Linked DNA regions of Homo sapiens: region 1 is linked to region 2. Evidence: fine-mapped expression QTL. A gene starts in region 2. The other region holds a variant in brackets. All regions are shown on one strand. Distances are between the middles of the regions. Region 1 overlaps ADTRP (androgen dependent TFPI regulating protein). Region 2 holds the start of ADTRP (androgen dependent TFPI regulating protein).

The links. PIP is the estimated chance that this variant, and not a neighbour inherited with it, causes the effect.
Region 1: its variant is fine-mapped to the expression of ADTRP in blood mononuclear cells (TOPMed, PIP 0.94).

The regions. Positions count from the first base shown.
Region 1 is chr6:11,712,413-11,715,332 of GRCh38, forward strand. It overlaps ADTRP (androgen dependent TFPI regulating protein), which reads right to left. Exons shown (of 6, transcript NM_032744.4): 6 at 1,111-2,100. The coding sequence ends at 2,066. Among named protein-coding and RNA genes, the nearest start is that of ADTRP, 65 kb to the right of the region's middle. RefSeq lists an enhancer at 1,964-2,113. The variant G/GA (reference allele first, on the strand shown) is at 1,552.
Region 2 is chr6:11,777,072-11,779,991 of GRCh38, forward strand. ADTRP (androgen dependent TFPI regulating protein) reads right to left here and starts at 1,732. Exons shown (of 6, transcript NM_032744.4): 1 at 1,536-1,732. The coding sequence starts at 1,688.

The sequences.
Region 1 (2,920 bases), 65 kb before region 2:
CTTGAAAAAGGCCATGGGGAGAGTGTTTACACCATGGAAATGAGCACACATTATCAATCAGAGCCTGACATCTTTTCCCCAGAGAGCTGGTTGTTAAACCTTTCCCAGCACACCACCCTCAGAAACTCAGTTTGCTCATTTGTAAAATGAGAACGTAACTCATCTCCTACTTACGAAGTTTCCGTGGGCTAGAATAAGTGGGAGTGGTGATGAATTACTTGACACTACACAAATATTGCTGGTATCATCATGTGGTTGCTATAGTTGTCATTTTCTATTAAGGGCCTAACATAGTGCTATGCAATCTGCAAATACCATATACCTTTTAGCAAATGTTTAATCAGTGTGTTATTGTTTTGTTGTGTATCTTTTCTTAAGCTACTGCAGCACCGAGCATGCCCTTGTGTGCTTAGGCATGTGCTCAATGGGAAATTGTTCCGAGACATTTCTAGTGTTGGAAGAGATATTGCACAATGGCCAGGCATGCTGCAATCAAGGTTTAATTTGGTCCTAGGGCCAGTAAAGCCACAAATAGAAATTTGCAGGCTCATCCCCACCAAGAGCTTACTGTGACTGAGAGTTACGCAGCCCGAGTCACCTCTGGGGTGTGGAACATTTGGGTGATCCCCCGAGGGCTTCACGTTTGGGGAATTTCCACTGTGGCAACTGTTTCTGAGCTCCTGCTGAGACCAGGTGCTTGGAGCAGTGAAGAGGCAGCAGTAGATGTGGGGAAAGAGGTGGTATTCCCAGCTCCAACTGGAAAAGACTTGAGGCCCATATTAACAGAACAGTAGAAAAAGAAGTGGGAATTAAGCAGGTTTCTTGGTGCCTGCCCTGGTCTTCCCTTAGGCTGCCTTCCCACCTGAGATATTCTGTCCTCTTCTGTAACCCTTCAAGACCACTCTTGCTCATTTTTACCAGATTTCTCCTACATAATGTTAGGTTGGGAAGTCCAAGTCCAATTTCCTTCAGTGTCCACACCCCAACCCATATGAGCCTAGTGACATACTAGTAGACTCAAATATGTCTACCCACCAATAGCCATTTGCCATTTGTGTTCTTTAAAAAATGTGCCCACAAATAAAGGCCAGGAAAATAACACTAGGAAAATCACAGCAGGGATCATGAATCCTTGTTAAGCATCTGGAAATCAGCTTTGTTAAACCACACACTAATTCAGAAAAGTGCTTTGTAGCAAAGCAATCTCAACAGCCCTTATAATTCTATCACTTCCCATCCAGATTCTTCTGCAAGCAAAATTTATTACTATACCATTTATTTGATGAATTAATCAATGTTCAAATGGAAGAGGTTTTGACAATGTCACTATGTTTGATGTTTATACCTGCCCTGAATGCTTGCTCAGAAGAGAAACAGATTTCCCAGTATTTTTTATAACTTACTTTCCCATTGTCTTCAATTAATTTGCTATTATCCCAAGTAGACAGACAACTTCAGTAGTAGCCATCTCCCTACATTTTTAGATCACTGAAAAAAATGGATGAGCAACCCATGAAAATAACTAGCTTACTGAAATGCTTGTCTTTTAAA[G/GA]AAAGTTGGGATTATTTAAAAAAAAAAAAATGGCCCAGGACCAGTAGCTAGGAGATCTGGGAGAGAGAAGTCATTGCCTTGGTTCTGACACTAAGTAACCCTTTTGCCTTTTGCAGGTAACTTCTCATCTAGGTCCTCAGCATCCTTCTCTGTAAACTGAAGAGTTTAAATGACTCTAAGTTCCTCTCTCTCTCTCTAGATGTTCTCTAACACCAAGTTTATGTGAGTTTCTTTGGCCAGATTTTAACCAGAGACCATCCTCCACGAAGGTCAAAGATAATTAATTCTGAGATAGCAGGAGTTGTTTTTGGCATGTGCAGTCAACCTTTCAAAAAACCAAGAGTTCTCAAGTTAAGCTACCTTCACGAACCTCTTATTAAATTTAAGTATCACTCTCTGTCCCTCCTACTTTGCTATGTTCCTCCACCACCTCCCTCCACCAGAAAAAAAAAAAAAAGATGAGAAAAATCTCTTGTGTTTTCTTCTTTCTTGGTTCTTGGAAAATGGTGTGCAATTACTTCCTCTTCTTCCGTGGCTGCCTCATGTCACCTGTACAAACAAGAACAGAGACAGACCTCAGGCTTCAGGCTTTCCCTAATGGGTATTTTTGTTGTGGGTAGAGATTCACTCTGACTTGGGGCAGTGGAAAGTTGAACACACTTTTCCCAAGGTGACAAGATGCAGTTTAAGGAGTTATGAAAAAACAGCTGCCACGATGACAGGGGCAGAGAACAACTCTGCCGTCCTCCCTCAGTGCTGGGTTCACAGTTAGCCAGGCACCCACGATGCTGTTTGCCTTCAGGTACTCTGCATAGCTAAGAGGAAGCATATTGCTGTGACTCTGAGTGAGTGTCTGCAGGCTACACACAATCCATCAGCAAACTTTGAGACTTTGCAGATGGAGATGAAGAGACCACATCAAATTAGAGAGGAAATAGAAGGGTGGATGTTCAACTAATTGGGGTCATTCTGTGACCTCTTAGCAAATGAATTCATCAGCCTGGTGGAAAAGTACTGGCATATGGATTAGGTTTGAGTAAGCTCATTAGAGGGGCATTATTCTACTGAAATTATAGCATTAGATTTGTAGAATGACTTCTATTCAGCCAACAAGTTGGTACTCCATATTTAATGATCATAAATCTTTGTGTAAGCTCTGCAATTTGTGAAATTTCATTAGCTCATTATCCTTTGTGCTTGTTGCCAAATACTGTCAATGCTACTTTAAAAACTTCTCCTCCATTCCAGAACTTACAGCCCTGGTAGTTCTGGCTTGGTATTCCTGCAGCAAATCCATGCTCCTAATTCCATGATTCACCCTTCAAACCCTGCCACCTTCATCAATTCTATCCTTAACAGTAAACACTAG
Region 2 (2,920 bases):
ACTTAGTAAAAGGAAAAACTAATAGGATTTGGTAGCTGATCAATCAGGGAAGCAAAATTGGGATTAACACTAGGAAATGATAGTATCATTGACAAGATAAGAGACTTTTCTCACTCTTGGAAAATAAGGGCTCTTGGAAATGTAGGTGAGCTAGAATTAAAAAGTCAGGATCAGTTGTGTGTGTGTGTGTGTGTGTATACAAAGAGGTAAGGGAGCTAGTTAATGAGTGTGGTGATAAATCTATTCTTAGCCACACATAGTGTGAGGTAGGACATTCATACTGGAATTGGATTTTATTAGAAAGTCAGTCCTAACTACAGACACACTTCCCTTTTAGTGGACTGTTTTTCATAGAAAGCCAATAGAGACACAAACCTTAGGGGTGTGTGTGTATGCGCGTGTGTGTGTGTGGTTTTTTGTTGTTGTTGTTTACTGTGGCACTGCTAGTTATACAAAAAACATTTTTTGTTTTGTTTCTGTTTGTTTTTCTCATAAAATTCCATGATTGAAACAAGTAGTCACCTTGAAGTTTTCAAAGACACTAGAGCTGTGTTCAGGGTTCCAATTTTTCAGGCCCAAATCAAGAGGCCACTAACCAACCAGTGAGGAGGAAGCAGCCACTTTGGGCCTCTTTGATTTTAACTCTCTCCATTTCCACGTCCTTAGCATTTCAGAGTGTCACAGTTTCTGACCACATACATTCTCCGCTTGTCAAATGAGGATTACAATTCTGAAAACAGATGTTTATGTGGCACCCAAGATTTTAGTCAAAAACCTCAAATATTAATTCACATCCCCAAATGATTCCCCATTATTAGCTTTTAACTTTAAAAGTATTTTTTTAAGCTATTCCTCAAAGTATTTTTCATAATCTGCTTTTCTCCCATTCATTCACACTTCATCAGAATGCAGTCAGCCAGGTTAGGAAGACAAGAAAGGAGTAAGTCATAAGATTGGTTTTTAAATAGTTGAAAATGTGTATTTGCCATTCGGTTGGGTGATTTGTCCTTTAAGATGGAGCCTGAACCTATAAAAAATTGAGGTGGGAGCTGAACATGGCAAAATGTGTTTGCTTTTCTTAGATAAATCTGTTAGTCTGTGTGTGCTGTAAAATGGCATTATTCCTTCATTGGAAATTACACTTCCTACACACCATACGCCACTCTGCCTTCTCTTCACAGACTTCCCCAAGCAAAGTTCAAAATGCCTCCTGCATTTGTAGTTAATCCCATGGTGAAACCATTAGCATGGTCCCCTCTTTGAGCTCATCTGAAAAGAGCTCCAAGATGAGATTTTTTTTTTCAAGAGAGCATTTAACAATGAGCCAGCATAGAAATGTTAACTATAGATAATTTCCAAATTGGGTTTATCAGAGCAAATTGTTAAGTAAACAAAAAACCCAAAACTCACAAAACGGTGAAGAAGGAAGACAAATAACAAAATTGTGTATTTAATAAAATCCAAAGATGATATGTGTGGCAGCACTGATATTCTAGAGAAATGGATCGGTTCCTGGTACGGACATATGGACTTACCAGATTAAGCAGCGTCATATATTTCCACCTTGCACCATTTGCCAAGATTTTGGGTTTCACCTCGTCTTTTCCTTCCTGTGAGATGTAATAATTGAGGAAAGTATACCAGCTCAGAACAAGGAAGTGGTATATGCATGTAGAAGTCTTCGTCATGGCGAGTGCTGACCGGGGCACCGTGAATGTCTTGAGTACTTTCTGGCGTCCTTCTGTGGGTCACAGCCTAAGTCCAACAGCAGGCCGGAGAGCTACAAACCACACCCCTCTGGGACTGAGAGTTCCAACACAGGCTGAATTTGGTTCTCTTTTAAGCTCCTTTCCTGATAAACTTCAGAGGCAGGATTACTGCTGGTTTTCAGATGCCTGCATTTAGATAATGATAGATAATCTGTAGATTTGCATAAAATACAACATGTGGGCTTTGAGAAGGGCAGGTAGCAATGCAAGAGCTGTACATTGTACTGTTTCACTAGGGCACTGGGGCAGGGGCATGGTTAAATGAAGTAAGCATGAAATACTAGGAAAATCTAGCGAAATACTTCCATGGCTGTAGTCTCTTTTCTTTTCATTTGCATATAACAAGGAAGTTGCAACCTTATCTCTTGAGAAAAGGAGGAGCAGGTTGATAAACCAGATCATGGGTGTGCTTAGGGCATGAACAGTAGAAAGGAAAAGTGTGTTGTAATTTTGCTCCTGAGGTCTCTGAGATTCTAGAAAGTCTGCAACAACCTTTGATCCTCCAGGGAGCAGCTCCAATGGTTTCTTTTCTTTTTTTTTTCACTTTTGTAACTATACCCTAGAGAACCAAGAGTAACCCAGGGCTGTCCTAGACACTCCATTTGCATAGGCATTTCTGTGCCCTGGGAGGGAAGAAGCAGCACAGGAGACCATCCTTACTATGGCCATGACCCCAAAATACCTGACTTTAGACATTGCTGGGAGAGGGTGAGAGTCCCCGCTCTGCCATGAATAGGATGAGACGTGGCTGGGCTAGGCAGCATGCCGGACTAGGCTCTGACTCAGGTTCCACAGAAGGGAACTGAGGAAGAACTAGAAGTGGATGCCTTGTGACATCGCCAGCTTGTTTCCCTGGGCAACTGACTCCGAGGGGTGAGCAAATCCCTCAGAGAAATGCTCCTGACACAGTTATGTAAGTCTGTAATTGGTGCTTTTCAATGACTTAACCAGGGCTTAAAAGTACTAGCAGAAAGAACTGTAGGCTGGACAAGGAGGACAAACCATAAACAAACCCACCTCCTAAGAGTCAACAGACTCCCAATATCAGGATTGGGAGATGGGAGGAGAGCAAACCTGAGCCCGCCATGGAGTTCTGCATTGTAACCATGTTTTTTTTTTTTTTTTTTTTTTTCATCTGTTGGGGCTGCTAT